Linked DNA regions of Homo sapiens: region 1 is linked to region 2. The links come from fine-mapping of genetic effects on gene expression. A gene starts in region 2. The other region holds a variant in brackets. All regions are shown on one strand. Distances are from middle to middle.

The links. PIP is the estimated chance that this variant, and not a neighbour inherited with it, causes the effect.
Region 1: its variant is the best candidate, but not a certain one, in a credible set for the expression of C2CD3 in anterior cingulate cortex (GTEx, PIP 0.84).

Annotation. Positions count from the first base shown.
Region 1 is chr11:74,109,740-74,125,847 of GRCh38, forward strand. C2CD3 (C2 domain containing 3 centriole elongation regulator) reads right to left here. Exons shown (of 33, transcript NM_001286577.2): 8 at 13,249-13,396; 9 at 8,489-8,643; 10 at 4,645-4,854; 11 at 4,041-4,153. Among named protein-coding and RNA genes, the nearest start is that of C2CD3, 53 kb to the right of the region's middle. The variant A/C (reference allele first, on the strand shown) is at 8,976.
Region 2 is chr11:74,162,581-74,178,688 of GRCh38, forward strand. C2CD3 (C2 domain containing 3 centriole elongation regulator) reads right to left here and starts at 8,422. Exons shown (of 33, transcript NM_001286577.2): 1 at 8,158-8,422; 2 at 5,764-6,033. The coding sequence starts at 8,212. PPME1 (protein phosphatase methylesterase 1) reads left to right here and starts at 8,709. Exons shown (of 14, transcript NM_016147.3): 1 at 8,709-8,942. The coding sequence starts at 8,842. RefSeq lists enhancers at 7,657-8,580, 8,354-8,803, 8,581-9,503.

The sequences.
Region 1 (16,108 bases), 53 kb before region 2:
AGTTTGTGCTCATGGCCATGGAGTTTTAACTGGTAAATAAAAAGAATTTGAGGCCGGGTGCGGTGGCTCACGCCTGTAATCCCAGCACTTTGGGAGGCCGAGATGGGCAGATCACGAGGTCAGGAGATCAAGACCATCCTGGCTAACATGGTGAAACCCCGTCTCTACTAAAAATACAACAACAAAAAAAAATTAGCTGGGCGCAGTGGCAGACGCCTGTAGTCCCAGCTACTTGGGAGGCTAAGGCAGGAGAGTGGCGTGAACCGGGGAAGCAGAGCTTGCAGTGAGCCTAGAGCACACCACTGCACTCCAGCCTAGGCAACAGAGTGAGACTCTGTCTCAAAAATAAATAAATAAATAAATAAAATAAAATAAAATAAAAAGAATTTGAGACCAGAATCAAAGGATATAAGTTTAAGCTCCAGTTCTAATACTTACTATTACTTACCACCGCAGAAACAATTTATCACCTATAAAATGATCTTCCTGTCCATTCACTGCTAAGGCTGTTAAAATGGATCATGAATCTGAAGAATCTTCACAAGAGGCCCAGTTATGTATGAAGAGAATCTGCTATTTCTAGCATTCATTCAAATGACCCATTTTAACCTACTGATCTCTCTATTCATCTCTGGCCATATTAACTGGCGACTCTATACTTTTCTTGGCACTGTTGGACAGGATCTGGACCTTGCTATGTGGATCAATGCACAGGAACTATGAACAAAAGGTCTGGGGCCAGGAAGCCCACATCCACTAGATCAGTTTATCTGGTTACTCTACCTGGGAAAGGGAAGTAAGATAACACCTGCACCTCATTGGTGTGCTGGGAGGATGAACTGAGGTAATAAAGGAAAAAGCACTTTGAACACTGTAAAATTCTTTATGTACAAACAATCCTATTTCAATTTCTCCTTACTACTTGGGTATGTTCTTGCACTGTTACTATATTTCTTATATAATTCTGTTTCTTAGGCTCATTATTTTTTACCACTGAAAAGTGAGTTAAGGCAGTAAGTGAAGAAGAAATTCAGGTAAATAACTTGCTAACAGTGTCCCAGAGAAGATTTTTTTCAAGAGTTGAAAGGGATCCAGATTAATACCTAGTCTAATCCATATTATTGTTAAGAGAGGCCCACAGGTAAGAAAGTGATTTTGCCTAAGGCATATGATTAGTGTGTGGTATAATCAGAACTAGAACCCAGTCTTGCAATTCTTTGCTCAATGCTTATTCCACATTTCCTATATAATCCTTCTCAGAAAAATGTAGAGAAGATCAATCACTGTGGCCAACAACAACAATAATGTTTAAGAAGCAATACAGATTAAGGCACATTTTGGAATCGAAACGGTGCTAGGTTGAAATTCTAGTTCTACCATAAACCAGCTGTGTGATCTCATAGAAGCTACTTAACTAATTTATGTCTCAGTTTCCTCTTTCCTCATCTGTGAGTTTCCTCTTTCCTCTTTACGTCCTGATATGCAAAAATTCCTAAGATATAATGTTAAAGGCAAGGTGCAGAACCATGTACAGGTTGGGCAGCCCTAACCCCAAAACTCAAAATCCAAAATGCTCCAAAATCCAAAACTTTCTGAATGCCAATATGATGCCAGAGTGGAAAATACCATACCCTACCTCATGTGATGGGTCTCAGTCAAAATGCAGTGAAAACTTTATTTCAAGCACAAAATTATTAAAAATATTGTATAAAATTACCTTCAGGCTATGCATATAAGGTCTATATGAAACATAAATGAATTTCATGTTTAGATTTGGGTCCTATCCCCAAGATATCTTATTAATGTATATGCAAATATTCCAAAATCTGAAAAAATTCGAAATCCTAAATACTTCTGGTTCTAAGCATTTTGAAGAAAGGACACTCAACTTGTGTATGGTGCATTAATACTTGCAGAAACATGGGGGATGGGAGGCAGGGGAAGGGATAAACCAAGCTTGTCCAACCCACAAGTGGCCCAGGATGGCTTTGAATGCAGCCCAACACAAATTTGTAAACTTTCTTAAAACACTGTAAGATTTTTTTGCGATTTTTTTTTTAAGCTCATCAGCTATCATTACTGTTAGTGTATTTTATGTGTGGCCCAAGACAATTCTTCTTCCAACGTGGCCCATGGAAGCCAAAAGATTGGACACCCCTGGAGTAAACATATTTGCTGATACACACACACACACACACACACACACACACACACACACACACACACACACATATATATATACACACACACATTATCTATCTATCTATAATGGCTTAAGGAAGGATATAAAAGCAACAATCTTGATTGTCTGCAAGGATGCAACCGTTCAATTTTGAACCATGTGAATGGATTATCTATTTCAAAAAGGAAACAAAACAAAGCAAAGTAAAAATTTAAAAATCCCGTGTTACTATGCTGTAAAGGAAAAGTTATTTGACTATGTAGTAGGAGTGTTAGGACCACATCTTTTATTTCTCAAACTACTTCCCAGAGAATAAACTTAACACTGATGAACTAACTATTCATAGATCAAACTGGAGAACCAAGGCAAAGCTATCCTCAGAATATATTAGAAAAGTGGCTGTAATTTTGGGTGGCAGGAACATAAATGTCTATTATATTATCCTTTTTCTGTATCTGAAATATTTAAAACAAATTAGAAAAAAAAGACAACACCAAAAGCCTAAGCAACAAAAGAAAAAAAAACAGATAAACTAGAGTACATAAAAATTAAAAACTTTTGTGCTGTAAACAATACCATCTAGAGAGTGAAAGGACAACCCACAGAATGGGAGAAAATATTTGCAAATCATAGATCTGATAAGGGGCTTGTATCTAGGATATACAAAGAACTCTTATAACTCAATAACAAAAAGCCTGATTTGAAAGTGAACAAAGGATCTGAATAGACATTTCTCCAAAGAAGATCTATAAATGGCCAATAAGCACATGAAAAGATGCTTGACATGATTGGCCATCAGGAAAATGCAAATCAAAATCAATGTGATGTCACTTCACATCCACCAGGATGACCAGAATAAAAAAGAATGGAAAGTAACAAGTGTTGACGAGGATGTAGACAAATTAGAACCTTCATATACTGCTAGTGGGAAAATGGTGCAGCCACTGTTGAAAACAGTCTGGCAGTTCTTGAAAAAGTTAAAACATAAAGTTACCATATGACCCAGCAATTCTACCATTAGATATATACCCAAGGGAAATGAAAGCACACAGTCCATACAAAACCACGTACACAAATGTTCACATAGCAGCATTATGCAAAATTGCCAGGAAGTGGAAATAACACGAATGTCCAGCAACTGAGAAAAGGATAAATGAAATGTGGTATATCTATGCAATGGAGTATTACTCAGCCATAGAAAGGAATGAAGTACTGATATATACTATAACATGAAACTTAAAAATATTATGGTAAGTCAAAGACAGTAGTCACAAAAATCACAAGTTGCATGATTCCATTTATATGAGACATCCAGAATGGACAAATTGATAGGGAAAGAAAGATTAGCAGTTGCTTAGGGCTGGGGGAAGAGGGAAATGCGAAGCGAATGCTAGTAAGTATGGGGTTTCTTTTAGGGGGGATGAAAATGTTCTAAAATTAGATTGTGGTGATGGTTGCACAGCCTTGAAAATATTGGCTGGGCGTGATGGCTTATGCCTGTAATCCCAGCACTTTGGGAGGCCGAGGCAGGCGGATCACTTAAGGTCAGGGGTTTGAGACCACCCTGGCCAACATGGTGAAACCCTGTCTCTACTAAAAAATACAAAAATTAGCTGGGTGTGGTGGCATACGCCTGTAATCCCAGCTACTCAGGAGGCTGAGATGGGAGAATCACTTGAACCCGGGAGGTGGAGGCTGCAGTGAGCAGAGATTGCGCCACCACACTCCAGCCTGGGCGAAAGAGTGAGACTCCATGTCAAAAAAAAAAAAAAAAAAAAAGTCAAATGAGTAATTAGGAATTCAAAAATTCTTCCAAAGTCAGAATGTCTAAGGTGCAGAAAACCAGTGTGTCTCTTACTTCCATCTGTAATTTTACTGGAGGCGAGTCGAACAACCTCAGTGATCAAAGCTGTCTTTCCCAATCCGCTTTCCGAAAAGCCCACAGGAAAGTGATATTCTACAAAGAAAGTGCTAAAAAGAAAAAAAAAGTGATTAAAAACTAACCAAACAATAAACCTAATTTCCGTCTGATAAATCCAACATATATTTGAAATCTTACTTTCAGGACCTCTAGTACTCAGAGGCCCTACCTCTTCTTCAAAGCCTTCCACCAACCCTGTCTGAGAGAATCAAAGGCTCCCTTTCTTGTGTTCCCACAGCAATTTTAATACAAAACATCTATTTTGGGCCCTAAAGCTTTATGTTATAGATAGCCATTTAAATGTTTCTCTCTCCTGCTAACTGTAAGATATGTAAGAACAGAGTCTGTATCTTAATTTTCTTTAGTCCCATACTTACTTACACAGTTCTTGGGATATAGCAGGGATTCAATATATTTCTGTAGATTAAATGATGCATATGAAAACACATCCCAAATCACAGTATTATGCAATTGTTGATTATTACCATCAGACACACTTTCCAAAAATGTCAAATTTAGCTTTCTCATGTTAGAGACATACCGCTTTTTTGCTGTAGTCACCTTAGGTGGTGGACCAGCATAGCTTTTTTTGCCAGGGGTCATCTGAGGACTATCTGGAGGAACTCCCATGGTTTCGATGATGATTCTGACTGAATGTGTTCTACCCAAAAGGGCCAGTCTATCCACACTTAGTGTCATCGTTTGGGCATCTTCTGGAGTTTCTGAGAGCATCTGTTGTTCAACCAAATTTCTGAAAGGAGTTCACACAAGCAGTGAGGCATACTGCTACAGGCTTCACATGAAACAATCTAGTTTGCACAGGCAAGATGAGGAAAAAGGGAGGGCAGCAAGTTTTTATTTTTTTATTTTTATTTTTGACACAGGGTGTTGCTCTGTCACCCAGGCTGGAGTGCAGTGGCACGATCATGGCTTACTGCAGCCTTGACCTCCTGGGCTCAAATGATCCTCCCACCTCAACTTCCCAAGTAGCTGGGACCACAAGCATGGGTCATCACACTTGGCTAATTTTTGTATTTTTTGTAGAGATGAGATATTACTATGTTGCCCAGGCTGGTCTTGAACTCCCGGACTCAAGCAATCCTCCTGCCTCAGCCTCCCAAAGTGCTGGGATTACAGGTGTGAACAACCACACCCAGCCAAGTATCTTGACTCACAAGTTATCAAGGATTGGAAACAGCTTTTATTATCAGAATTCTGGTCCTATAGTACAAGAAATCTCAAAAAATGTAAAAAAAAAATATAATCTAAAGGTTTGAGAGTGTATATTCAGGGTAATTTGAATCTATGCTCCCAGGTAAAAAAAAAATTTAAAAATACTATATAGATATATACACACACACACACACATACATACATATATATATACATACATATATATACACACACTTATACACACACAACATATATACACACACATACATTATACAATACATATGAGTACAGAAACTGAAACTCCAAATTTAGGTTTTTCTAGAAGGGACACAGACCTTATTTCAGTTACCCACTATTCTAATGTAACTACTATTGTCACTTTTGTGTATTCCTTCTCATTTGCTTTCCTTATGCATATTTTCTACACAGTTGTGATCACAGTACACATACAACCTAGAATTCTGCTTTCTTCCTTAACCATTTAAATTATACCTATCTTGGTAGAATCAAAAATATGAAAACGACCATACTGCCAAAAGCAATCTACAAATTCAGTGCAATTCCCATCAAAATACCCTCATCATTCTTCACAGAACTAGGAAAAAAAATGTTAAAATTCATATGGAACCAAAAAAGAGCCCACATAGCCAAAGCAAGATTAAGCAAAAAGAACAAATCTGGAGGCATCACATTACCTGACTTCAAACTATACTATAAGGCCACAGTCACCAAAACAGCATGGTATTGGTATAAAAATAGACACATAGACCAATGGAACAGAATAGAGAATCCAGAAATAAAGCCAAATACTTATAGCCAACTGATCTTCAACAAAGCAAACAAAAACATAAAGTGGTGAAAGGACACCCTATTCAACAAATGGTGCTGGGACAATTGGCAAGCCACATGTAGAAGAATGAAACTGGATGTTCATCTCTCACCTTATAAAACTATCGACTCAAGATGGATCAAGGACTTAAATCTAAGACCTCAAATCATAAAAATTCTAGAAGATAACAATGGAACAACCCTTCTAGACATGGTTTAGACAAAGACTTCATATCCAAGAACCCAAAAGCAAATGCAACAAAAACAAAGATAAATAGATGGGACTTAATTAAACTAAAAAGCTTCTGCACAGCAAAAGAAACAGTCGGCAGAGTAAACAGACAACCCACAGAATGGGAGAAAATCTTCACAATCTATACATCTGACAAAGGACTAATATCCAGAATCTATAAGGAATGCAAACAAATTAGCAAGAAAAAATCAAACAATCCCATCAAAAAGTGGTCTAAGGACATGAATAAACAATTCTCAAAAGAAGATATACAAATGGCCAACAAACGTATGAAAATATGCTCAACATCACTAATGATCAGGGAAATGCAAATCAAAACCACAATGCGATACCACTTTACTCCTGCAAGAATGGCCATAATAAAAAATTAAAAAAAAAAAGAATGTTGGTGAGGATGTGGTGAAAAGGGAACACTATTACACTGCTGGTGGGAATGTAAACTAGTACAACTACCATGGAAAACAGTGTGGACATTCCTTAAAGAACTAAAAGTAGAACTACCATTTGACCCAGCAATCCTACTTCTAGGTATCTACCCAGAGGAAAAGAAGTCACTATATGAAAAAGATACTTGTACTTGCATGCTTATAGCAGCACAATTTGCAATTGCAAAAATATGGAACCAGCCTAAATGCCCATCAATCAATGAATGGATAAAGAAATTGTGGTATACATATATGTGTGTATATATATACACACACACACGTATATATATACACACACATATATACGTGTGTGTATATATACACGTGTATATGTGTATATACACGTGTATATGTATATATACACACGTGTATATATACACACGTGTATGTATATATACATATACACGTGTATATACACATATACACGTATATATGTGTATATACACATATACACGTATATATACACATATACGTGTATATGTATATATACACATATATACGTGTATATGTATATATACGTGTGTGTGTATATATATATGAATATATATATATGAATATATATATGAATATATATATATGAATATATATATATGAATATATATATATGAATATATATATATGAATATATATATATGAATATATATATATGAATATATATATATGAATATATATATATGAATATATATATATGAATATATATATATGAATATATATATATGAGTGAGCTGTGATTGTGCCACTGCACTCCAGCCTGGGCAACATAGTGAGACCCCGTCTCAAAAAAAAAAAAGTAGTCTACCCAAATAATTAGGTGACATCGTCTAAGTCATTTGGCCTCAAATATATATATATATATATATATATATATATGGAATACTACTCAACTATAAAAAGGAAATGAAATAATGGCATTTGCAGCAACCTAGATGGAATTGGAGACCATTTTTCTAAGTGAAGTAACTCAGGAACAGAAAACCAAATATCATATGTTCTCACTCATAAGTGGAAGCAAAGCTATGAGGATGCAAAGGCATAAGAATGATACAATGGACTTTGGAAACTGAGGGCAAGAGTGGGAAGAAGGTGAGGGATAAAAGACTACTAATTGGAGGCCGGGTGTGGTGGCTCACAACTGTAATCCCAGCACTTTGGGAGGCCAAGGTGGGCGGATCACCTGAGGTTGGGAGTTCAAGACCAACCTGACCAACATGGAGAAACGCCGTCTCTACTAAAAATACAAAATTAGTCGGGCATGGGGGCACATGCCTGTAATCCTAGCTACTCGGGAGGCTGAGGCAGAAGAATTGCTTCAATCTGGGAGGTGGAGGTTGCGGTGATCTGAGATCGTGCCATTGCACTCCAGTCTGGGAAACAAGAGCGAAACTCCGTCTCAAAAAAAAAAAAAAAAAGACTACAAATTGGGTACAGTGTCATATTGCTTGGGTGATGGGAGCACCAAAATCTCAGAAATCACCACTAAAGAACTTATTCAGGTAATCAAACACCACCTGTTCCCCAAAACCTATGGAAAACAAATTTAGCCATCTTTTCAGATTATTACATTTTTAAGAATTACAATGTTTACTGAGTTATTGTAATTAATCACTCTGATGGTGCTGGGCAAATGGGTCATTTCACCTTGGGAGATCTTGTGAAAATAACATTCCTTTGTGTTTACCTTTAAATAAACAGTCAGAGCAGCTCACCTATTTCTCTTGCCTGCTGACCTCTTCTTCAGCTTATGATCACTTGACTCCAGAACCTTAGATGATCTGGCAAGAGCTGTTGACTGGCTTATTTTTTTAGAAGGGACGATATCATCCTCTTCACTGAGGAAATCACTGATGCTGGTATCAGATTTCTATGGAGAGGAAGAAACAGAGACACTAAATGACTGCTGCTTTGGGAATTGTAGCTACGAAACATTTCTCTAAAGAAAGCAAGTTCTTCTCTGTACATACATCATTCTCTTAAAGAAAGAACTGACACCAGGGAGATAATCCCATATTTCTCCTGGTTATACAAAAATAATCTGAAGTTCACAAAAATAACCTACAAGTTCAGTTCAAAGCAAATAAAGGAAGGTAGATTCTTCTTTCAAATTCTCAATAATAATAACTATTATTTATTGACTATAGACCATATGTCTGGTATTATGCTTAATGCTACATGTATATTTCTAATATTCACCAC[A/C]TTCCGACAAGGTACCTTTATGTCAGTTTTTACAAGTGAGAAAATCAGAGCTGAAAAAAGTAAGGCAGCTTGTTTATGATCCATAGCTGTAAAGCCAGATTTTGATCTCCATGGGCTTCAAAGCCTGTATTTCTACCATAGTTTGAGGCCAAATGACTTGGACGATGTCACCTAATCATCTGGATAGACTATTTTTTTTTTTTTTTTTTTTGAGACAGGGTCTCACCGTGTTGCCCAGACTGGAGTGCAGTGGCACAATCACAGCTCACTGCAACCCTGACCTCCCTGGGGCTCATGTGATCCTCTTACCTCAGCCTCCCAAGTAGCTGGGACTACAGACATGAGCCACCACACCTGACTAATTTTTGTATTTTTTGTAGAGAGGAAGTTTGGCCATGTTGCTCAGGCAGGTCTTAAACTCCTGGGCTCAAGTGATCTGCCCATCTCAGCCTCCCAAAGTGCTGGAATTACAGGCATGAGCCACCGTACCCAGCCAAGACTACTTTTTGTCACCATTCTATACTACAAATGATTCATTCTGCTTTTAATCTTGCTAAAATGAACTGTTTACTATAGTCACAAATTTTCTTAATGAGAGAACCAATGGCTAAGCCCCTTGCAATTCATTTTTATTTTGAGAAAAGGCAGCTACTGCAATGGACTGATCAGCCCTCTACATCACAAAATGTAAAATAAAGAGAGAAGATGGCATTATAGTTACTGGGTTCCATTTTTAAAAAAAGACATAAAGCTTGCTAATATAATATAAATTCAGGACACAAACCCAAAGTTATTTTAAGTCTATCATTTAAAATTACCCTTTTTTCAGCATGTCAGGGGGTATAATGTGTTGATCTGTGATAGGGGGACAAATTAATTTAAATAAGCATGATAAGAATGTCTTCTTGGAAGCAATACAACTTTTTTTTTTTTTTTTTTGAGATGGAGTCTCAGTCTGTTGCCCAGGCTGGAGTGCAGTGGCGCAATCTCCGCTCACTGCAACCTCTGCCTCCCAGGTTCCAGTGATTCTCATGCCTCAGTCTCCCAAGTAGCTGGGACTAAAGGAATGTGCCACCATATCTGGCTAATTTTTGTATATTTAGTAGAGACAGGGTTTCACCATGTTGTCCAGGCTGGTCTCGAACTCCTGACCTTAAGTGATCTGCCCACTTTGGCCTCCTGAAGTGCTGGGATTACAGGCATGAGCCACCACACCACCACAATACAACTTTTAAAAGGCAAAATTACAAAGATTTTTGCCTTTAAGTTATCCTTTGAGTGGCAGCTTTTAAAAATGGTTATTGACTAGTGCAACTGAAAAATAAATTTTAAATTTTATATAATGTCAACTAATTTAAGCAGTGGCATGTGGCTACTAGCTACATTGAACAGCATGATTGTAAGATTACTTCCTTTTTTTTTTTTAATTATACTTTAAGTTCTAGGGTACATGTGCACAACGTGCAGGTTTGTTACATATGTATACATGTGCCATGTTGGTTTGTGGCACCCATCAACTCATCATTTACATTAGGTATTCCTCCTAATGCTATCCTTCCCCCAGCCCCCAACCACCCTACAGGCCCTGGTGTGTGATGTTCCCCGCCCCGTGTCTAAGTGAACTCATTGTTCAATTCCCACCTATGAGTGAGAACAGGCGGTGTTTGGTTTTCTGTCCTTGTGATAGCTTGCTCAGAATGATGGTTTCCAGCTGCATCCATGTCCCTGCAAAGGACATGACCTCATCCTTTTTTATGGCTGCATAGTATTCCACGGTGTATATGTGCCACATTTTCTTAATCCAGTCTATCACTGATGGACATTTGGGTTGGTTCCAAGGCTTTGCTATTGTGAATAGTGCCGCAATAAACATATGTGTGCATGTGTCTTTATGGTAGCATGATTTATAATCCTTTGGGTATACACCCAGTCATAGGATTGCTGGGTCAAATGGTAATTCTAGTTCTAGATCCTTGAGGAATTGCCACATTGCCTTCCACAATGGTTGAACTACTTTACATTCCCACTAACAGTGTAAAAGCATTCCTATTTCTCCACATCCTCTCCTTCAAGAATGAAGTTTATCAGATGGCTAAGAGCATTTCAACATTCAAAGTAGAAGGATTAGTACCAGCAAAAAATAGGGAGATACAAGAGCTAAGGCCAGGTGCAGTGGCTCATGCCTGTAATTTCAACCCTTTGGGAGGCCAAGGCAGGAGAATTGCTTGAGCCAGGAGTTTGAGACCAACTTGGACAACATAGTGAGACCCTGTCTCTACAGAAAAAAAAAAAAAAGAGCTAAAATGTTTCAGGAGTGGCAAGTGGCTTGAGACTCCAGTATGGCTGGAGACTCCAGTGGGTAAAGGGTATAAGTGGGAGATGAAGTTAGAGAGGTCAGTCAGGGTCAGATTCTAACACCATGCTCAAGGCTGATGACACACTGTGGTCTAGTAGAAAAACATACAGGCTTTTTGTCAGATAGACTACGGTGAGAATTCCAGTTCTGCCACTTAATTATTTGTACTTAACCTCTTTAAGCTTTTGTTTCATGCTATGTAAAAGAGAGATAATACTATCTCATGCGGCTGGTAAAAGAATTAAATAAGACAGAGCTGGACATGATGGCTCACACCTGTAATCCCAGCACTTTGGGAGGCTGAGGTGCGCGGACCACTTGAAGTCAGGAGTTCAAAACCAGCCTGGCCAACATGGTGAAGGCCTGTCTCTAATAAAAATGCAAAAATTAGCCAGGTGCAGTGGCATGTGCCTGTAATCCCAGCTACTCGGGAGGCTGAGGCAAGAGAATGGCTTGAACCTGGGAGGTGGAGGTTGCGGTGAGCCGAGATCATGCCTCTGCACTCCAGACTGGGTGACAGAATGAGAGACTCCGTCTCAAAAAAAAAAAAAAAAAAAAAGAATTAAACAAAATAATGAATTAAAAACAGTATTTAGTGTTCTATTAGTTTCAGCCATAAAAACACAAAACAAACAACCCCCCCAAGTATTTAATAAATGACAGATAAGATGTGAAGTCCCTAGCACACAGAAAATGGGTAATAAATGTGTAATAAATATTTCCTCTTTATCCTATAGGGAACACAGTATCAGTGATGACTGTGAAGGTGGGAAGTCATGAAATCCTAACAGTTCCTAATGTCTTTCCCGTCCACCACCTCCTGTCCAATTCCACTGCAGGTACTCTCATTCAGGCATTCTGTCTCATGCTTCCCGTAGCCCAGTGGCTTCCTATCTGCTTCTCGTTATTCCCTCTTCAGTCTGCCCCACTGTAGGGTTGCCAGACACAGATTCCTAGAACACTCTTGTGATATGTGATTTCCTCTTCACCTGACATGAAAAGCCTTTCACAGATTGGCTGCAATGTGCCAGCCTGCCTTATCAACTCCTTTTCCACACAAATTCTCATCTAGTCAATTGGGTCCCTTGTAGCGCAAAAATGTGTTTTTCTGCACAGGTCATTCTTTCTACGCCCATTTTGTATCTTTTCTCTGCTTCTCAAAACACTATCTTTCAATCTCAGTTAAAACCCTTTATTCTTCATTATGGTTTTTCCCCACAATCTCATGTAAAAGTTTTCCCTGCTTCTTCCAAACTGTGGTAGCCCTCACTGGCTTACTACTGGGCTGATATAAACTACCTTGTATTTCAGTATCTTTTTTTGACCTGGAGAAAAGGAAAATCAGGAGTATGAACCTTCACACATATAAATAACTACTTGTGGAACAGGGATTGGACATAGTATGTATAGATTCTAGAAGATGCTAAGCCAATGAAAAGAGCATAAGGCTTGATAGAAAAAAGAACTTTGAAAAAACCAGAGCTGCCAGAAAAGAGAATCCCTGTCTTACAGGCCAGAAGAGTTTTGTCTCCTGTGAGTAAGAAGTGTTTTTGGAATATTTTTAACAGATACCAGTTAAGGATGGTTCTGAGGGTATAACTACATCAGCTCTTCCTTATAAAAGCTCTAAGGAAACCATAAAATATATTAATTAAACCATAGGCTTTGGACTCAGGCAAATGTGAATTTGAATTCTGGCTCTAATACTTATTTGCTATATGTTCTTGCACAAAATATTCAAATCCTACTAGGCCTGTCTCAACATCTGTAAAATGAAGATAATACTTTCCTCTTGAGGTTGTCATTAAAATTAAGTAAGGTAAGTTATGTAAAATGCATAGCTGTCATGCCTGCAGCTACTAATATTATTAATACATTTGTTCTCTAATTCTCAATGCTTCAGGTTCAGTGACTTACAGGTGCTGTATAAAATAAATTCTCCAGAAGACTCTGGTCATACTGAGGGTCATTCAGCTCACTGATGCAATACACATCACTCCCAGGAGATGGGGAATCTGGAGGAGAGCCTAGCCCATCCCAGAAATTGCCTTGGGATAATTCAGCACTGCAGAGATAAGAAAACAAAGCAGAAGAATTTTAATAGAAGTTTCAGCTGAACTATTCTCTCTTTAGTGAAACTTTCTGAGGTTCTAAATGTGGAAGGAGATATGTTAAACAAAAGACTCACATTAAACAAAAGACTACTGAATAAATATTTCCCAATTATACTACCCCTCCTCTGGGATGCTAACAACCAGTATTCAGAAACACACTACTGACACTGATTGTGATCTCATTCATGTATTCAACAAACATTTATTGGTCACTTATTATGTGCTAGGTCCTGGAAGATATAGAGGTGGCTAAGCTAACACAATCTGTACTCTTGTATTATTTATAGTCTGATAGGGAGAAAAAAGGGTATAATTCAATGAGTTAAATATTATATATCGATTTTGCAAAAAATTCACAGATACACCCACTTCCAATAAACAAAAATACGTGTATTTAGGACTAATTATGGTGATATTAGTTCTATATCGAATACAAAAAATGAATAAAACACAGTTTACAAACTAATAGGAAGATAAGCATATAAGTAACTATAAACTCAGAATTTTGAAGGAACAAATACTCCTTTTTTTTTTGAAATCCCACGCTGGTATCTTTTTTTTTTTTTTTTTTGAGGTGGAGTTTTGCTCTTATTGCCCAGGCTGGAGTGCCATGGCATGATCTAGGCTCACTGCAACCTCTGCCTCCTGGGTTCAAGTGATTCTCCTGCCTTAGCTTCCCTAGTAGCTGGGATTATAGGTGCCTGCCACCATGCCTGGCTAATTTTTGTATTTTTAGAGATGGGGTTTCACCATGTTGGCCAGGCTGGTCTCTAACTCCTTAGGTGATCCACCCACCTTGGCCTCCCAAAGTGCTGGGATTACTGGTCCCTTTTTTGATAGCAATTTTTACTTTCTAACTTTCTTTCAGGTCCTTGTATAAATTCCATATTTTCCCTCAAAGTTTAGGCTCCTTGAGGGCAAAGTATGCATATATTTCTGTTTCTCCTACAGTAATTAACATTTAATAAGCACCTGTTAGTGAACTTAATGATTTCTTAATGAACATGATGCCAGGTACTGTAATACACATTTTATTTATTATTTCTTTCCATGTTGCTTCCTTTCAAGCTAGCTGCTATACTTTTTTCCTTAATTTCTCAAGAAAATAGTATATAATCACTACCTTCAAATTAGACAGTGTTCTTATATTATTTTGAACAAGCAGATAGTTAACATTCCCTTCCTCACCTTTCCTTAGGCTACAGCAGGGTTTCTCAATCTCAGCCCTGCTGACATGTTGGGTCAGACAATTCTTTATCTTTGGGACTGTCCTATGCATTTCAGATCCCTGGCCTCCACTTACCAGATGCCAGTAGCACGTTCCCAGTTGTGACAACCGAGAAATGTCTCCAGACACTGTAAATGTCTCATGGGGTTGGGGTGGGGAAAAATCACCCCCTCCTTGAAAACCATCAATCTATAGTAACTCTCAAAGGTCAGAACAGCTTCCTAACTGCCATAATCCAACTAACAACTTCCCAGTCGACATGGCCTCTCTGCAGCTTCTGCAGCCCAGGAGTTTGAGACCTACTTCATTTTGAAACTTTACTTTTTGTTCTTTTATATAACTGTATTATTTGTCACATATACACTCCCCTTTGTATACCCTTAAAGTTATGAAAATTTTTCCAGTTGCTTGTTATTCCCCACTTTGTACACCCTTAAAAGTTATGAAGACTTTTCCACTTTTTACTCTTTTTTGAAATTAATATTTATTTGAATTTATTCACCTGTCTATGATATACTAAAAGGGCTAAAATTTGCCTGTGTTCCTTGGCCATAAAATAAGCCTATTCTCATGACTATCCTTTTCTTTTTCTTCTTAGACATAATTTTAAATAAAAGAATACACATACCTATTTTGAAAGTCAAATACGACTACAAGGCTTATAATAAAAAACAGTAGCTGACTGACTCCTCAGAGGTGATCACTTTCAATTCCCTTGGATGCTTCTTCTGGTATTTACCTTCATATTTCTCTTTTTAAAAATTGTATTAGAGACATGGTATTGCTTTATTGCCCAGCCTGGAGTGCACTGGTGTGATCATAGCTCACTGAAGCCTCGAACTCCTGGGCTCAAGGGTTCCTCCTGTCTCAGCCTCCCTAGTAGTAGCTAGGATTACAGGTGCACACCAATACACTCGGCTAATTAAAAATTTTTGTAGAGACTGGGCCTCATTATGTTGCCCAGGCTGGTCTTGAACTAAACGATCTGACATAGCCTCCCAAAATACTGGAATTACAGGTGTGAGCCCCCATGCCTGGCTTTACCTCTATATTTTGAAGTGACACATTAATATACTGTTATTTTCTGATTTTTCACTTTTCTGTATGATCTATGAACTTCCTATTATGAAAAATGAAGGACCCACTCTCTTATACCATTACACTTGAACCACACATTTCCCTTTTACCCATCTTCTCTATTTAGTTATATTACAAATTTTTTGGTTAAATTAATTTTCAGGGTTAATATTGTATCAGAGCCAAGTACAGTATAATTTATTGCACCTTTTTTCTTATACAACTAATTATCCCTGGTATAAATTAACTGCCTTTTCATTTGCTTAGTTTTCTTTGACTCTATTACTACTTTACGAGTGAACTCTTCAAGAGAATTGAAAATTTCCTTTGAGAGAACTTAAAATTTGGTCAATATATG
Region 2 (16,108 bases):
TATCATACCATTCTGGGGGTAGAGGAGTATGAACCCAAGATCAAAAGAACAATAAAGATTCACAGAACAACAACAAATACCACACACTGAGGAAAAAATAAATCAACTGACCAAAAATATTTAGCATAGCAAGTATTTGATAAGAAAAATACCCTTAAAAGAGTATTGTTAAATGTATTTGCCAATAACTCAGGCTTTGGTTTTGACACACAGAGCAACAAATCTCAGTTTTCATTCTCACCATTTCTAGTTTTGAATTGACAAAGGATTGCCCTTGCACAGCTGCAAGGGTTGGTCCCTGCCTCCCAGGAGTATCTAATTGCATACTCTTGGGTTATATCTGGACCACTGAGCTATTGAGAGCACTTGGAACCAAGAGAAATGAAAATAAACTTCTCAACTATACTCTTTGGTCACTTAGACTAATACCTTCATGCCCAGAGGAGAAGAAATATAATGTATGCATAAGGAATCTCAGATCATTTCAGAACAGTTTAACTTCTGGTATTTTCTTAACCAAAGTTGAGAAAATGGTTCGTTTTCAGCATTTGTTAATACTGTAGTGAAAAGCATGTAGGAATTATTATTAGAAGACTTGTGATTGTGTTCTGACTGCAATATTCACAAGCTATTTCTGTATAAGCCATGGTTGTCTGTAAAGTAGGCTCATAATATTCGCATCACTGCTGTTCTGAGGAACTGGGGTTGCTGCAAGCAGAACACTAGTACAGTCCAGTGTCTTCCCACATGGTAGTTGCTGAATGGTTGGTAAATGACTTTAGGCAAATTACTTGACATATCATAGTCCCTGTGTAACAACTTGATATGGTTTGGCTGTGTCCCCATCCAAATCTCATCTTGAATTGTAATTCCCATAATCCCCATGTGTCATGGGAAGGACCGGGGGAGATAACTGAATCACAAGTGCGGTTCTCCTTATCCTGTTCTCATGATAGTGAGTTAGCTCTCACGAGATCTGATGGTTTTATAAGGGGCTTCCTGCTTTGCTGGGCACTCATTTTTCTCTCTCCTGCTGCCATGTGAAGGACGTGTTTGCTTCCCCTTCTGCCATGATTGTAAGTTTCCTGAGGCCTCCCCAGCCATGTGGAACTGTGAGTCAATTAAACATCTTTTCTTTATAAATTACCCAGTTTCAGGTATGTCTTTATAGCAGCATGAGAATGGACTAATACACCACTCATGGGGGTTATCTGAAAGTCATATGAGCAAATAGATATAAAAGTGCTTTGTAGACTATAAAATGATGTACACATGAAGAATAAGGGAAATGGACTAACATGTATTCATTGGCTATTTACTAACAGCCAGGGTCTTCCACATCTCATTAATTCTCTTAACAACTCTACGATACTGGTGTTTCTGTCTTCATTTGGGGATAAAAGAGGCTCCGCAAAGTCATGTATATTCCTAGGTTCACCCAGCTTTAAATTGACAGAACTGGGCTAAAACTCAGTTCTATCCAATTATAAGTCCACTACACTTAATTATAAGTCCACTACACTATTCATCACTTCTAGGACAAAAAGCTTAATTCTTAGTAGACTTCTGACCTTTATACTTCACTTGTTGTGGAATTAGAATCCCTACTGTCCAGCACTATTCCTACTCCGATTTGTCTTTCACATTCCTACTAACTGAATCCTATCTGATCAAAGACAGGTAAAAATCACGTAGTGTAGCCATAATTTTCTCAGTTTCTACTCTAGTAGTTCCATGCTCCAAACATTTTCATGGCTGCTATTTTCTGCAACAGAATAAAACGTAAAGGAAGAAAGATGTAAGAGTATGAGGCATATCTCAGAATCCTATAATCCTTCTATTTCCTAAGGCAGTATAATACAATAGAAGTATCAATAATTTCGGAGTCAAGTGCCTCCCTGAATTTAGGGTTGGTGCCAGGGTAACCTTGGGTTAGTTACTTTTAACTCTTTGAACCTCAAATTCGTCACTCAGAAAATCAGGATAATACCCGTTGCAAATGTACAGGGCCTCAGAGCATGCTTTCTAGTGCTCTGCAGAGGCTTCATCTTATTTCTCCTACTGTATTTTCACTTTCTGTAAACAAAAAGTTATGAAGATTTAAAATGTAAAGGTTTTCTCATTAGTTAAACAGAAATCTGTACTTAACATGTTTTTGCAATTGCCTTAACTTCTGTTTAGAATAAGGTAAAATAGATATGAAGAAAGTGGCCAGGCATGGTGGCTCACCTGTAATCCCAGCACTTTGGGAGGCCAAGGCAGGAGGATTGCTTGGGTATGGAAGTTTGACACCAGCCTGGGGAACAACAATGAGACCTCATCTCCACAAAAAATACAAAAATTAGGTGAGTGTCGTGGCATGTGCTTATATTCCCAGTTGCTCAGGAGGCTGAGGTGGGAAGATTGCTTGAACCCAGGAGGTTGAGGCTACAGTGAACTGTGTTTGCATCGCTGCACTCCAGCCCGGCTGTCTGAGAGAGACCTTTTCTCAAAAATAAAATAAAATAAAATAGATACGAAGAAATAAATAAAATGATTTTAAACATCAAATAAGATGATAGACTTGAAAGTATTTCAAAAATTGTAAAATGTGATACATTTCCTCTTCTTTTTTTATATGTTATTTTTATCTGAGGAACTCATATAATCGTTCTTACTACCTCTCTCCAGCCTAGAAAAAAAGAGCAACCCCATCTCATTTCAAATGTTAATTCTGGCACAGCCTATATATTTCACTCATTTGTAAATCTCTTCATGCAATAGTGACTTCTCCTTTTTTGACTGATACAGTATCCTAATTACAAGGTTATTTTGCACTTGTCTTAATACCTTAAGTGTAATAAAAATGGCTTGAGAAAAAAATATGGTTCATGCTAATATGTGACAACATATTAATTAGTTTACTTTTTGCATTTTGTATTAAGTGAAATATGTACACAAAAGAGTAAATAAAATAATAATAATGCGAATACCTACCACACAGCTTAAGAAATAGCATACTTTTTCCAAGTTTTTGGTTAGAGCACATACTTTTGTGAACTAATATTTGATGTCTTATCTCTTCATTTTCTGTCATTTTCTTTCTTTTTTAGAAACAGGGTCTCACTCTGTCACCCAGGCTGGAGTACAGCGGCATGAACATGGCTCACTGCAGCCTCGACTTCCTGGGCTCAAGTGATTTCTCTCACCTCAGCCTCCCAAGTAGCTGGGACTACAGGTGTGCACCACCATGCCCAGCTAATTAAAAAAATTTTTTTTTGTAGAAACAGGGTCTTGCTATGCATGTGGAATCTAATTTTTTTGTAGAAACAGGGTTTTACCCAGGCTGGTCTTGAACTCTTGGCCTCAAGTGATCTTCCTGCCTCAGCCACCAAAGTATTGGGATTACAGGCGTGAGCCACCACGTTCAGCCTCTTATCGCTTCATTTTCTAAAAAACACATCATGTCGGCCGGGTGCGGTGGCTCACACCTGTAATCCCAGCACTTTGGGAGGCTGAGGCGAGCAGATCGTGAGATCAGGAGATTGAGACCATCCTGGCTAACACGGTGAAACCCCATCTCTACTAAAAATATAAAAAATTAGCTGGGTGTCGTGGCGGGCACCTGTAGTCCCAGCTACTCAGGAGGCTGAGGCAGGAGAATGGCGTGAACCCAGGAAGTGGGAGGCGGAGCTTGCAGTGAGCCAAGATTGCGCCACTGCACTCCAGCCTGGGCAACAGAGTGAGACTCCGTCTTAAAAAAAAAAAAAAAAAAACCATGTCATGTCTACAGTTGGACTGTCACTTATAAGGTTCACCTCATGTGTCTCCTATTGAAATTCTACCTTTTCCATGGCCTTCTTTCTTAACTAGAATTATGAAATTTGGGTGCTGGCACATTTGATGTTTTAACTCTTTCAATTTACTGGTGGGAAAATTAAGGCCCAAGAAGATGAAATGGCTTGCTCAAAGTCAAACAGCAAGAGCATAGAGTAGAAGCAGGATTCTGGCTTCTTAATAACATAAGATTAGCCCTTATTAACTTCCTAGAATATTCATATGATATTACTATATGTGTCAAGTAATCAGACATTTAATTATATACTGTCTGGCATTGCTCAATACTGTTTCATGTATGTCAGTTTTGTTTTCAACTAATCTTTAAGTTCCTTTTGGGCAGGGAATACATCTCAAATCTCTGTACACGCTGCCTGAGTCTTAATATTTTTATAAGACTTGTACCTACAATGTGTCAGCTACTAGACCGATCACTTTACAAACATTTTTTTCATTTAGTATTCACAATAATTCCTGACAGGTAAGTGCTATTTTTCCCAACTAACTAATAGGAAACTGGGGCCCTGAGATGCTAAGGAACCTCTCAGCATCACCTAACAATCTAGTCCTGAAGCCAGAGTTCAAACTCTAGACTGTCTAGATGTCAACCCGTTCAACCGGGTTGCTTCTTTGTGCAAATATCTAGAAAATGGAAGGGCAACTATATGATCCCATTTTACAGATGGGGAAACAGGAATCAGATATGGGAAGAGACTTTCCTAAAATCATGTAGTTGGTAACACCAATGTAAATGTTCGGATGCCAAGTCCAATGCACCAATATACCATAAGATGTTCAAATAAATGTCTGACCTGTTGATTACCATGTTAATAAATACCTTCTCTCTTATTGAATTTCTAATCACTCCTCATTTGTTATATTATATAAAAATACTACCTGAGGATTTAATTTTTAAGCTTACAGTACCAAGATTATTTATATCTTTTAATCGCACTTACTGCTTTTAACCTACTATTAATAACTAAACTTTTTTGTGAAGTTAGAGTTCGGGATCATTCTTATTAATTTTTTGGATTTTTTGTAAACCCCATGGTGCCTAAAACAATGTGTAGTATGTGCTAAACATATTTTTTGAATGACTGAATTACAGCATTTGTTCTTTACATGTTGATGTTTCAAAAATTTTTTCTCGAGAGAATGTAAGTTACTCAAGGACAAGTTAATCTTAACTCACCCCTGGCTCTCCAATATTCTGAGCCCAACCATGTTTACATGATAAATGCTCGAATTTTATTGACTTGAACTGAATTGACTTGATAAATAACCCCATCATCCAAAATGTATTTATGTGAAAGCTTGACCTGAATAAAGAAGTAACATAGTACACTCAGAATACTTTTCTTGTACAAAAATGAAGACATCTTGGCTTCTGGTTCCCTACAGAGGGATGCTTTCCATTTCTGAACATCTGTAATACTAACTCACTAAACCATTCATTTAGCATTTAGTATGTATTATCTTGTACTATTGGTAAATTTTACATCTATATCCTCTTTCCTTGAGTATAATGTAAACCCCAGAGTTGAGACTACAGTTATTACCTAAAAAAGCATGGTGTAGTGAAAAGAGCATGAGTTTTGGTGACAGACAGAAGTGGGTTCAAATCCTAATTCAGCCATTTATCAACTTTGTGACCTTAGAAAGTATTCATTTCATCTCTCCAACTTGTTTAATTGTCTATAAAACAGAGAAAATACCTATCTTTCAGGGTTATTGTAAGGATTAGAAGTAATACATTTCAAAACTGCTGGCACACAGTAACACTCAATAAATTTACAAAGAAAAATGTCTACTATAAAAACTCTTTGACTCTTCAATAATTAAGAATGCCCATATATGCTAGGTACACAACAACACTTATTGCTGACAATATAACCACATGCTTTGTATTACGTCTGCAGGTGCAATGATAAAACAATAACATACCTGTTAGATAAGAGGTAAACTGTTTTGGACCACAACGAATAGCGTAACGTGTAGTTGTTCTCACAGCTTTTGGTTCAGTCTGCAATGCATCCCTGGGACAAAAGAGGGTTCCATCTGATGTTTCTCCCCACCATCTCACTCGGACAAGTACACAAGTGGGAGGCTTTGCAATCTTCCATATGACTCTATTAACAGTAAGTTTTAGAAAACAGCGTAGCTGGCCTTCAACCAGAGGTGGCAGGCTTGTAGATGGAGAAATGTCACTTAAACCTGTAGAGGAATCCAAGAAAACTGAGTCAAAATTTAGACTAAATATAGAAAACATATAATATGCTTTTTGAATGAAAACAAACAGAACACTTTAGTCTTAAGTTCAGCAATTTATCACCACTTAGAAAGAAGGTTTATCCTACCCATTATTCTAATACATGAGAAGTAACTATCAAATCAGACCACCGAATAATCTATCTGGTCATGTAAGCCACTCTGATAACTAATTAGTATTTAAGGTTTGATTTGATTTACTCTAAGTTAAGAACATACCAACAAAGACACACTAATATAAACTTTTCTTTAGTTGAGTTACTATTTGAAAAATACAAATATCAGAAGTAGTTGACATTTTTCTAAGTATGGTTGAAATTTTTCTAAGTACAGTTGTTTTAATTATTGCAACATCTATGGTTTTTAAGATATGTAATCTTTATCTAACTCTCTTTTAAAAAAATCACTAACGATAAAACAGCAACAACTCCCTTCACTCACAAACGATTTAGACTATATCATACAACTCAGCATTTCAATGAAGAACGTCTTAAATTGTAACTTTTCTTTCCTGCCAAGATCACACAGTCAGTGAGGACACAGACTATCTAATCTTCAGATTCTGCCACTATTTTTAACACAGTGCTGGGTTCATATATTTATTGGCTTTAGTATTTATTGGGTTTCATAAAGACATTAAAGTGTAAACAAAGCAATTAATCATGACTTTCTAAAAAATTTTCCTTTAATGACCCTGATTGTCTTTCATTCATAGTACCTTTTCGGGAAAACTTAAAGGAGATTTAAGAAACCATTCCTATATTATTTATACCTTTTTTTTCCTTTGACTTTTCTTTGAGGAGTGGTTATGCCTCAAAGAAGAAAATATATGGAATGTATCAGATCAGGACTAATTATTTGGACTTCTAATGCAAACACCGCCTCTGCCCTCTATAGTGGAGAAAAGACCCACCATAATCCTTATGGATAGTTTCAACATAAAAATTATACACAGTTGTGTATACATTTCTACATATGGAAATGGTATAGCAAAAAGTGTATTCTGTTCTATGCTATGTTATATTATTTCTACTTTGACTTTCCGATTATCAACCAAACATGCTTAACTGTTTTGACACAGGGAGCACTAGTATGCTTCAGTCTCAGATCCTCCTATCTTTCCTGGCAGGAAAGTCAGTATCTCAAAACTGCCTTAGTAATCTTTAAACAGCTTGGATAAGAGTAATTCCCAGATTGTAGCTTCAGTCCTCAACCCAATGGCCTAATGTCCTATCACTGTTCCCAATACTTCTTTTCTCGCTAAACTGCCTACAATGCAAAAAGGCAGGGTCACCCACTGTCCTTTTTCCCTTCGAGGCAGTCTTGTAGAGATTCAATGTCAAGTTTCCTGATCTGCCCTGGGTTCCTAGGTTGACTGTTCTCACTGCAGCTAACATCCCCTACTCGGTGAGCTTGTGTCTCCTTGAGCTGCTAACCTGATGAGGACTCTCTGCTGCACACTCTTTCATGATCTCAGGTCCTTCAGGAGATCGTCATGCCCTTACCCCCACTCCAATCCTATCACACCTGTCATTCCCCACTCTTCCCGGCTCTATACTCTACAATTATTTTTCCCAACTCCTGCTCATAGTCAGCCCTTCATACTTCATTCATTCAACTAACATTTACCGAGTCCTGCTTTGTACTAATCCTTGGTCATTCAGTAATGTATAAAACGTGATTCTTGCCCACAATCACACAACAAATGATATAATCCCTTTGCCAATTTATGTTTCTTCCTGTCCCTGTGGACCTCGAAAGCTACACACACACATACATTTCACTTCGTTATCAAAACCAATCCCATCATTGTTTGTTCTTCTCCTCTACAGTCATCCTACCGGTAACCTTCATCTCATTAATCGCCTGTCTGTGGCCCCTACCCCAGCCCCTAATTCCTTTCTATTCTCTGGAGGGCCAATTGCCCTTCCTTTTAACCTTCTGGTTCCCTGGCTACTTCCTTCTTACGTCCCTTTTCTTGTTTATCCAGCGGGGGTGCGGGTCTCCCTAAAATTCCTTACACCCTGCTCTCCTATTACGCTTTCCTCAATCTTTGATCGCTCAGGTTACCTCTTTTTTTGCGCCCACGGCTGCCCCCAGACCCTTGGCCTTTTCGTTGTTTCATGATGAGCCCGAGCTCTTCTTCACCAGCTCAACTCCGTCTCCAGCACCTAAGCAGTATCCTCCCGCCATCCCTCCCCACGGCGCCTGCGTTCCCCGGCAACCGGCGCCGCTGGGCAGCCTGGGAGGCAGGAAAAAGCGACTCTTCCTCTAACAGTCTCCGGAAAACGGTGCGAAGAGAAGGCGCCAAGACGCCTTCCCTCCAATACACTACAATACCCAGGACGCTTTGCTACAATACCTCTCCGGGGTTGGCTGGGGGGCGCCTCCAGCTGCGCAAGCGCATAGGGATGCGCCCTTTGTGGACTCCATTGCGCAGGGTGCATTGCCCTGAAGAGCGCTCCTCCTTCCGGTGAAAGTCGTCGGGTTCCCAGCCGGGAGTCTGCGGAGTTCTCATACTCTGTTACCCAGCTTCCTTTGTATGAGTGCTGTTGCGCACTTCCGGTGGAAGCGCTGAAGCGAGTGGGTGGAGTTTACGGAGCCGGTGGGCGGTAGGCGGTGCTACGGGTAGCTGGGTGCTGTCCAAAGGCGACAGGGCGTCGTTAGGGGAGCGAGTCGTGACCGGTTGGGCCACACTCAACGTGGGACGAAGCTTCGCCTACTGTTTGACTACGTGCGTGCAGCCTCCCCTCGATGTCGGCCCTCGAAAAGAGCATGCACCTCGGCCGCCTTCCCTCTCGCCCACCTCTACCCGGCAGCGGGGGCAGTCAGAGCGGAGCCAAGATGCGAATGGGGTACGTGACCCATACCCCTTCTCCCTATGGGCCAGGCCCCAGCCGTTGGAGAATGGTATCTCTGGGCGTTCATAGAGGCACGGGAAAGGAGTCTACTGATAGGAGAAAATGTTGGCGGCCTGGAGATATTTAGATGGAGTAGAAGGCAGATTGGGGTACTAGGGGAGGCGCCAAGTCAATAGAAATTGGAGGAAAAATAACGTTGTTGAAGGGAGAGGGGAATGAGGCAAAGGTTGGGGAAGCTGAGAGACTAACATAAGGGATCTGAGAATCACTTCCACAATAAAGGAGGCTTAGAAAAGGGAGTAGAACGGTGACAAAGGTGGAGGAGAATCGGCCAGGGAAGGTGGAGGGAAGTGGGGAATGACTGAGAGAAAAGTTGAGGGGAATTGGGCCAACAACTAAGGAAAGGTTTGGGAGGAGTAGATATTATCAGAGTTCTAATATCTGCACTGTGAGAACTAGATACTAGAAAAGCTGAGGGGGGTAGAAAACACTCGAGACAGGGCTGGAGAAGGAAAGAGGAGAACTAGGAAGCAGACGATTCTAGAGAATTCCCAGAGGTGTAAAGACAGATTCAGCGAATGAGAGGTGAGATTAGGTCTCTTAAGGGAGAATGAGAAAGTTTAGGGAGTAGGCCTAAGGTAAGGTGGAGAACATAGCCACGAAGATTGTTAAGGGTAGTAGGAATGTGCTGAGAAGCTGGACAGGATAAGGGAGAGAGAAGAAGGAGAGGACTGAAGAATTTACAGAGTGAGAAGCTGGACAGGATAAGGGAGAGAGAAGAAGGAGAGAACTGAAGAATTTACAGAGTGACCATAGGCTCTAAAGATTGAGAGATGACTATAAATACGGTTTGGTGAATGGAAGTGCTGCAGTTGTAAGGTCTGGGAAGCTTAGAGGAAGATTTGGGCAATCAGTTTTTGCTGGGCTAGTAGATCTGAGGGAAGCGACGTACTGGCCTAAGACTTTGAATTAGTGAAGCATTGGGAGTTCGAGAAATAGTTTGCTGGAAAGGAAGGAGAGCCATGTAGAAGAGATAGGTTTTGGAATTTTAGATCGTTAAATGGCTTGTGCCAGGTTAGGGGATACTTGGGCCGAGGAGAAAGAATGAGGTGAACATGGGAGAAGTAATTGCTGGAAAGTGGAGAGAATTGAATAGGCATTTGGTTTTGAGGGGATATTTGTAGTTTCAAACAGGATTCTGGGAATTAGTGACTGTAAAGAGAAAAGGAGTAGGAAAGATACTTAGGTATGAGGGCTCCAGAGTATATTTGGGATTCTAGAGATGAATTGGTAGATATTCTTTGAAAAAGGACTACAGAAGAGAAACCTTAGGTTCTGAAGAAGTAATATGTGTAAAAACTTATCAAAAAGGAGGCGAGAGTAGGAGATGCAGTACTGTGACAGTAAGTCCTAGGGATGAAAAGAAAGGAGAATCCTATAAAACAGTGGGGTAAAGGAATGGGAAAAATGGGTGGAAAAACCAGGGAAGGAAACTAAGAATTGAGTGGAGACCTGCTATGATACGCAGTAGAAAAATGAGAAAACTTTAGCAGGAGGAGATAGAGAGATAGACGCACAATAGAGGTAGAAGGCTACATAGAAGGTAAAGTGAAGATTGTTTTGGCTTTGGAAGACAGAAAAGTTGGACTATAACATGAATAAAGAGAATTTGGAAACTGACCCATAACATTATTTGGGAAAACTAACCTGGAGTTTAATATTAATGTAACATTAATTGTTGTTAAATATCTTAGTTGCTGCCTTTCTTAAAATAAATTTGATTTTTCAGTATACCAGCACCCTTCTATACAAATACATAAGAAAATCAGATTTTTAATAATTATACATTCCTTAGATAAGCTTAATTAGAGCTCAGCTTCTCATCTTGGAGAAACAAGTTCTCTGAAGATTGAAGAACTGAATGAAGATACTGAGAGAAAAAAAAAGGAAAATCTGCTGATTAGAAGATTGTATAATTGTTAGTAATTTATCGTTTTTATTTTTTATTACTTTTCATTTTATTTTTTTTTAGAGACAGAGTCTCACTCTGTTGCCCAGGCTAGAGTGCAGTGGCACAATCTCGGCTCACTGCAACTTCCACCTCCCGGGCTCAAGTGATTCTTGTGCCTCAGCCTCCCAAGTAGCTGGGATTACAGGCATGCACCACCACGCCCGGCTAATTTTTGTATTTTTAGTAGAGAGGGGATTTCGCCATGTTGGCCAGGCTGGTCTTAAACTCCTGGCCTTAAGTGATCTGCCCCACTTGGCTTCCCAAAGTACTGGGATTATAGGAGTGAGCTACTGTGCCTGGACAACTTACCTTTTTAAAAAGATGCTTTGGTCTTCTTGGTTTAGGTTAACTGCTTATCCTGGAAAAGAAAGTTCTTTAGAAAGGCCTTTCTTTATGATAGTATTGTGAAGAGAAGAGCATATATTGGCGAATATTTGTGTGGTCCTCAAATGGCTTATTTTCCCGTATCTTTCTTTTCTACTTTATTGGTATATAAGCAGGCTTCATCTAAGTCTCATGGTAGTAATAATATAGATTCTCTTTCTCCTTAGAATCATAAAGCTGAGAGAAAGCATAGACATGGTCTCATTTCACCACTTCATGTAGTTGAGGAACCCAATATTCAGAGAGTTCTGTATTCTATAAGGGAATGTATTAATAAATGAGGGAACTGAGACTCAGATATTCCTAAGGTACCCTAGAAGCTTAGCGGTAGGGCCGTTAAGGACTAGGACTTGGGTCTCTTGACTGTGAGACCCATTGTGTATTTTGGAGTCATAATTGTCATCTGGGGATACTTATTTTGAGTTGTGTATCTTACTCATTTGCATATAATCTAGGATTCAGTCTTTTTCTTCAGTCGTAATTTATGAAGTCTCACACCAATTTCAAAGCATTCTTTATGTCTCCTTATGCTTACTTGCTTTTTTCTTAACTTCCATTCTTCCACTCTATCTATGTTACTCACAAGTTAGTCCTGTTCTCTTGATAGTCTCTTGTGTGGCTTACTCTTAACTATTTTTCATGATCTCTTGCCTTCAATTTCACTAAACATTATTTAGGCATGTTTGCATATTCAGGGTGCATATTCTGAGTTGGTGATTTTTCATGAGTTTCCATAATTCAGTTTTTCAGATTAGATTTAGTAATTCCAAAGTATTGTTGGATAATTTAATAATAGCAATTTTTAAAGTAAGTACTGTGTGCCAGACATTGTAATGGTAACTTTATGTTATTTAATGTGTCCACAGACCTGCATGGTGAATATTTTCCTGCATTGTGGGTAAAGACATTCAGACCCAGAGATTAAAAGTAACCCAACTAGTAGGTAGCAGAGCTAGGATTCAATCTAAGTTTAGTCTCTAGAATCCATTCACTTTTCAGTACACTAATATTTTCTCTTGGGTAAGGCCTGAAATCCTGGTGTCACTCTTCCTTTTAATAGATGCCAATGGATGTTGCCAAAAACAGTGGTTTTGAACTTCTTTATTAAAGCTTTTAGAGCTACTCTGACTAAAGTAGATTTGAGATCCCTATTTGCTTTGCACCCCTGGTGTGCTTGAGAGAAGTATCTTTTGAAAGTCACTGCTTTCGTATATACTATTACTATTAGAGGAACTATAAAATATTAAAGCCATTCATTATTCAACGTGTTTTTGGTTTATCAGTAGTTGTACTTTTTGGCCAGGTGTGGTGGCTCATGCCTGTAATCTCAGCACTTTGGGAGGCCGAGGCGGGTGGATCACCTGAGGTCGGGAGTTCAAGACCAGCCTGACCAACATAGAAAAACACCGTCTCTCCTAAAAATACAAAATTAGCTGGCGTGGTGGCACATGCCTGTAATCCCAGCTACTCAGGAGGCTGAGGCAGGAGAATCACTTGAACCTGGGAGGCGGAGGTTGTGGTGAGCCGAGATCGCGCCATTGCACTCCAGCCAGGGCAACAAGAGCGAAACTCCATCTCAAAAAAAAAAAAGTTCTACTTTTCTATTATTATCTCTTAAATTCCTTTTTTTTTCTTTTGCAAGAGATAGAGTCTTGCTGTGTTGCCCAGGCTGAAGTACAGTGGCTTTTCACAGGCATAATCTTGGTGCATTACAACCTCAAACTCGTGGGCTCAAGCAGTCTTCCCACTTCATCCTCTTGAGTAGGTAGGACTGAGGATACATGCTAGCATGCCCAGCTCTGTAGTGATTTAACTGACATGTATATAGTAGTCCCTTTTTATATTCTATGAGGTAAACTAGGGCAGGAGTTAATATTTTCTTTTAATAAATGAGAAAACTGAAATGTTCATTGACTTGCCTAAGATCACAGAATCATTATGTGGCAGGAACAACATTCAAACCCAGGACTTCGTATTTTTAGTCCATTGTTCTTTCTATAGCTTGCATTGAAGGGTTTGATATTTGAAGTGACAAAGATCTAAGTTTGAAGCCCAACTTAGGTATTTACATTGGTCGAGTCATTTAACTTCTCATAGTCTATTTTCTTATCTCTAAAATGAGAATACTTCTGCTTACCTGAGAGTGCTGTGAGAATAAGATAATACATAAAAAGCACTTATAGTTCCTGACACTGACACATAAGCTCTTAAAGAATGATAGCTAGTAGATAATTATACATTGAGAACTGTGAAGAAGGTTCATAGTTTATGTGGAAGCTCTCCTTTCAGTTTCTTATGTTATCAGCTTTTTTGTCCCCACAAGCTGTATGTTTATTCATATCTGATTAGATAGTCTTTCATCCATCTTCTTAAATTTATTATGGATATCAGGCCTCTTAGGAAGGCTTTAATGAGCTATTCACACAGATGGGGAAATAAAGGGCAAAGTGAAGTGATTTGCTCAAGGTCACAAATTGAGTTACTAAAATAATCAAATCCCAGTATTTCTGTTTTTTTTTTTATTTTTTCATTAGATTTTTAAAAAGTTAAATTTATATGCCATAGAATTCACTCTTTTAAATGTACAATTCAGTGATTTTTGGTATATTCACTCAGTTGTACAATTACCACCACTAATTGCAGAACATTTTCATCCTCCCATAAACTCGTTACTCATTAGCATCTTCCCTTCCTCCCAGCATGTATTGCTTCTGGATCTTGAGTCACAGAAAGGCTTTTCCTTTTTTTGGGTTATAAAGGAATCATTTATATTTTTTCCTGGTACCTGTGTAGTGTCCTTTTTTTTTTTTTTTTTTTTTTTGAGACAGAGTCTTGCTCTGTCACCGAGGCCGGATGGAGTGCAGTGGTGTGATCTTGGCCCACTACAACCTCCACTTCCCGGGTTCAGGCGATTCTCCTGCTTCAGCCTCCCAAGTAGCTGGGATTACAGGCATGCACCACCACACCCAGCTAATTTTTGTATTTTTAGTAGAGACGGGGTTTCATTATGTTGGCCAGGCTGCTCTTGAACTCCTGGCCCCAGGTAATCCACCCACCTCAGCCTTCCAAAGTGCTGGGATTACAGGCATGAGCCAATTTTTTTTTAATCCATTTGAAGTTTATCTTGATATGCAAAGTGAGGAAAAGAAGACATTTTATTTTTATCCAAAGGCTATCTAGTTGTTTTCATCATTTATTAAATTTTTTAGTCCTTTACCCATTACGTAAATTTCACTACAATAAAGAAATAGTCCTGGCCAGGCTCAGTGGTCCATGCCTGTAATCCCAGCACTTTGGGAGGCCAAGGCATGTGGACCACTTGAGCTTGGGAGTTGGAGACCAGCCTGGACAACATGGTGAAACCTCTTCTCTACAAAAATCACAAAAATTTAGCTGGGTGTGGTGGTGTGTGCCTGTAGTCCCAGCTACTCTGGAGGATCATTTGAGTCCGGGAAGCAAAGGTTGCAGTGAGCCAAGATAATGCCCCTGCACTCTAGCCTGGGACACAGAGTGAGACTTTGTCTCAAAAAAAAAAAAAAAAGTCTTCTTTCTCACTGATTAAAATGACACCTTTGTCATATGCCAAATTTCTATATAAATCCGGGTCTGTGGAGTTTCTTTTACGTGCCACTACTGTACTTTTAATTAGAGGATTTATTAATATGTTTTGATGGGTGGTAGAGGTTGTTTACCCCTCATTCATTTTGAGGATTTTCGTGGTTCCTCTTGTTTTTTTCTCACAAATAAACTTTCTAATCCCATAGACTAGTGCCAGAAAAAAATCCTGATAGTATTTTTATTGGGATTACATTAAATACAAACATTAATTTAGAATAAACGTTTTTATGATGTTGAATGTTCCTTGAAGAAATATGGTATCTTTCAATTTGTATGAATCCCTTTTGAAGGAAATATATTTCAGATTCCAAGTATTGACCTAAGTTATATTCAATCTAATATTACTTAAATTCAATAGTACTCTTAAATAATTGTGAAACTCAGTAGATTTACTCTTTAAATACAATTAAGTCTACAAAAATCCCCAAACTCACATTAGCAACATTATATTGATGTGAAACAATCTAATTTGCTGTTATCAGTTTACTGTAGTTTAAACTACAAGGACATTTATTATTGATAGGATGTTCCAGGGTTCATTCAGTTGCTAAACAATTTCATTCAGGACCCAGGCTGTTTGCATCCTTTCTTTTGCCATCCTTAGAATGGTGGCTTTTCCTTCTCTTGCTTGTCACCTTATGGTTGCAGGATGGCTGCTGCCACTCTACTTCTATCTTATCTTTACAAATAAAAAGAAGCGGGGGCCAAAGTCCTTTCCTAGCTAAGCTTGTCTTTTAATTTTTTCCCAGAAATGCAAGCTCCCCAACAGATTTTTCCCTTAAGTCTTATTGTCCAGAACTGTTCACATACCCATCCTAAAACCAATCACTGGCAGTAGGGAATGGGATTAACTATGACTGGTTTAGACCAATTTTGATTCATTCCCTTGGACTGGAGGAGAGACAACAAGAGATCTCCACTAGCTGCTCAAACAAAAGTATTACAATTCTGTTAGGGAAGAGAGAGTGGGAAGTGGGCAGGTAATGTCTGGAATAGAGAATAAACAGCATCTGGCCCAAATCCTGAGGTTAACAAGTGGAGAAGCCTAATCTTCTGATTTCAACTTCCCTACTGTTTTCATTGCAGTGTAAGTATAGGAAGTAATAATCCCACCCCCAACTCCCCTGCCCCTTATTGCCAGATTTCA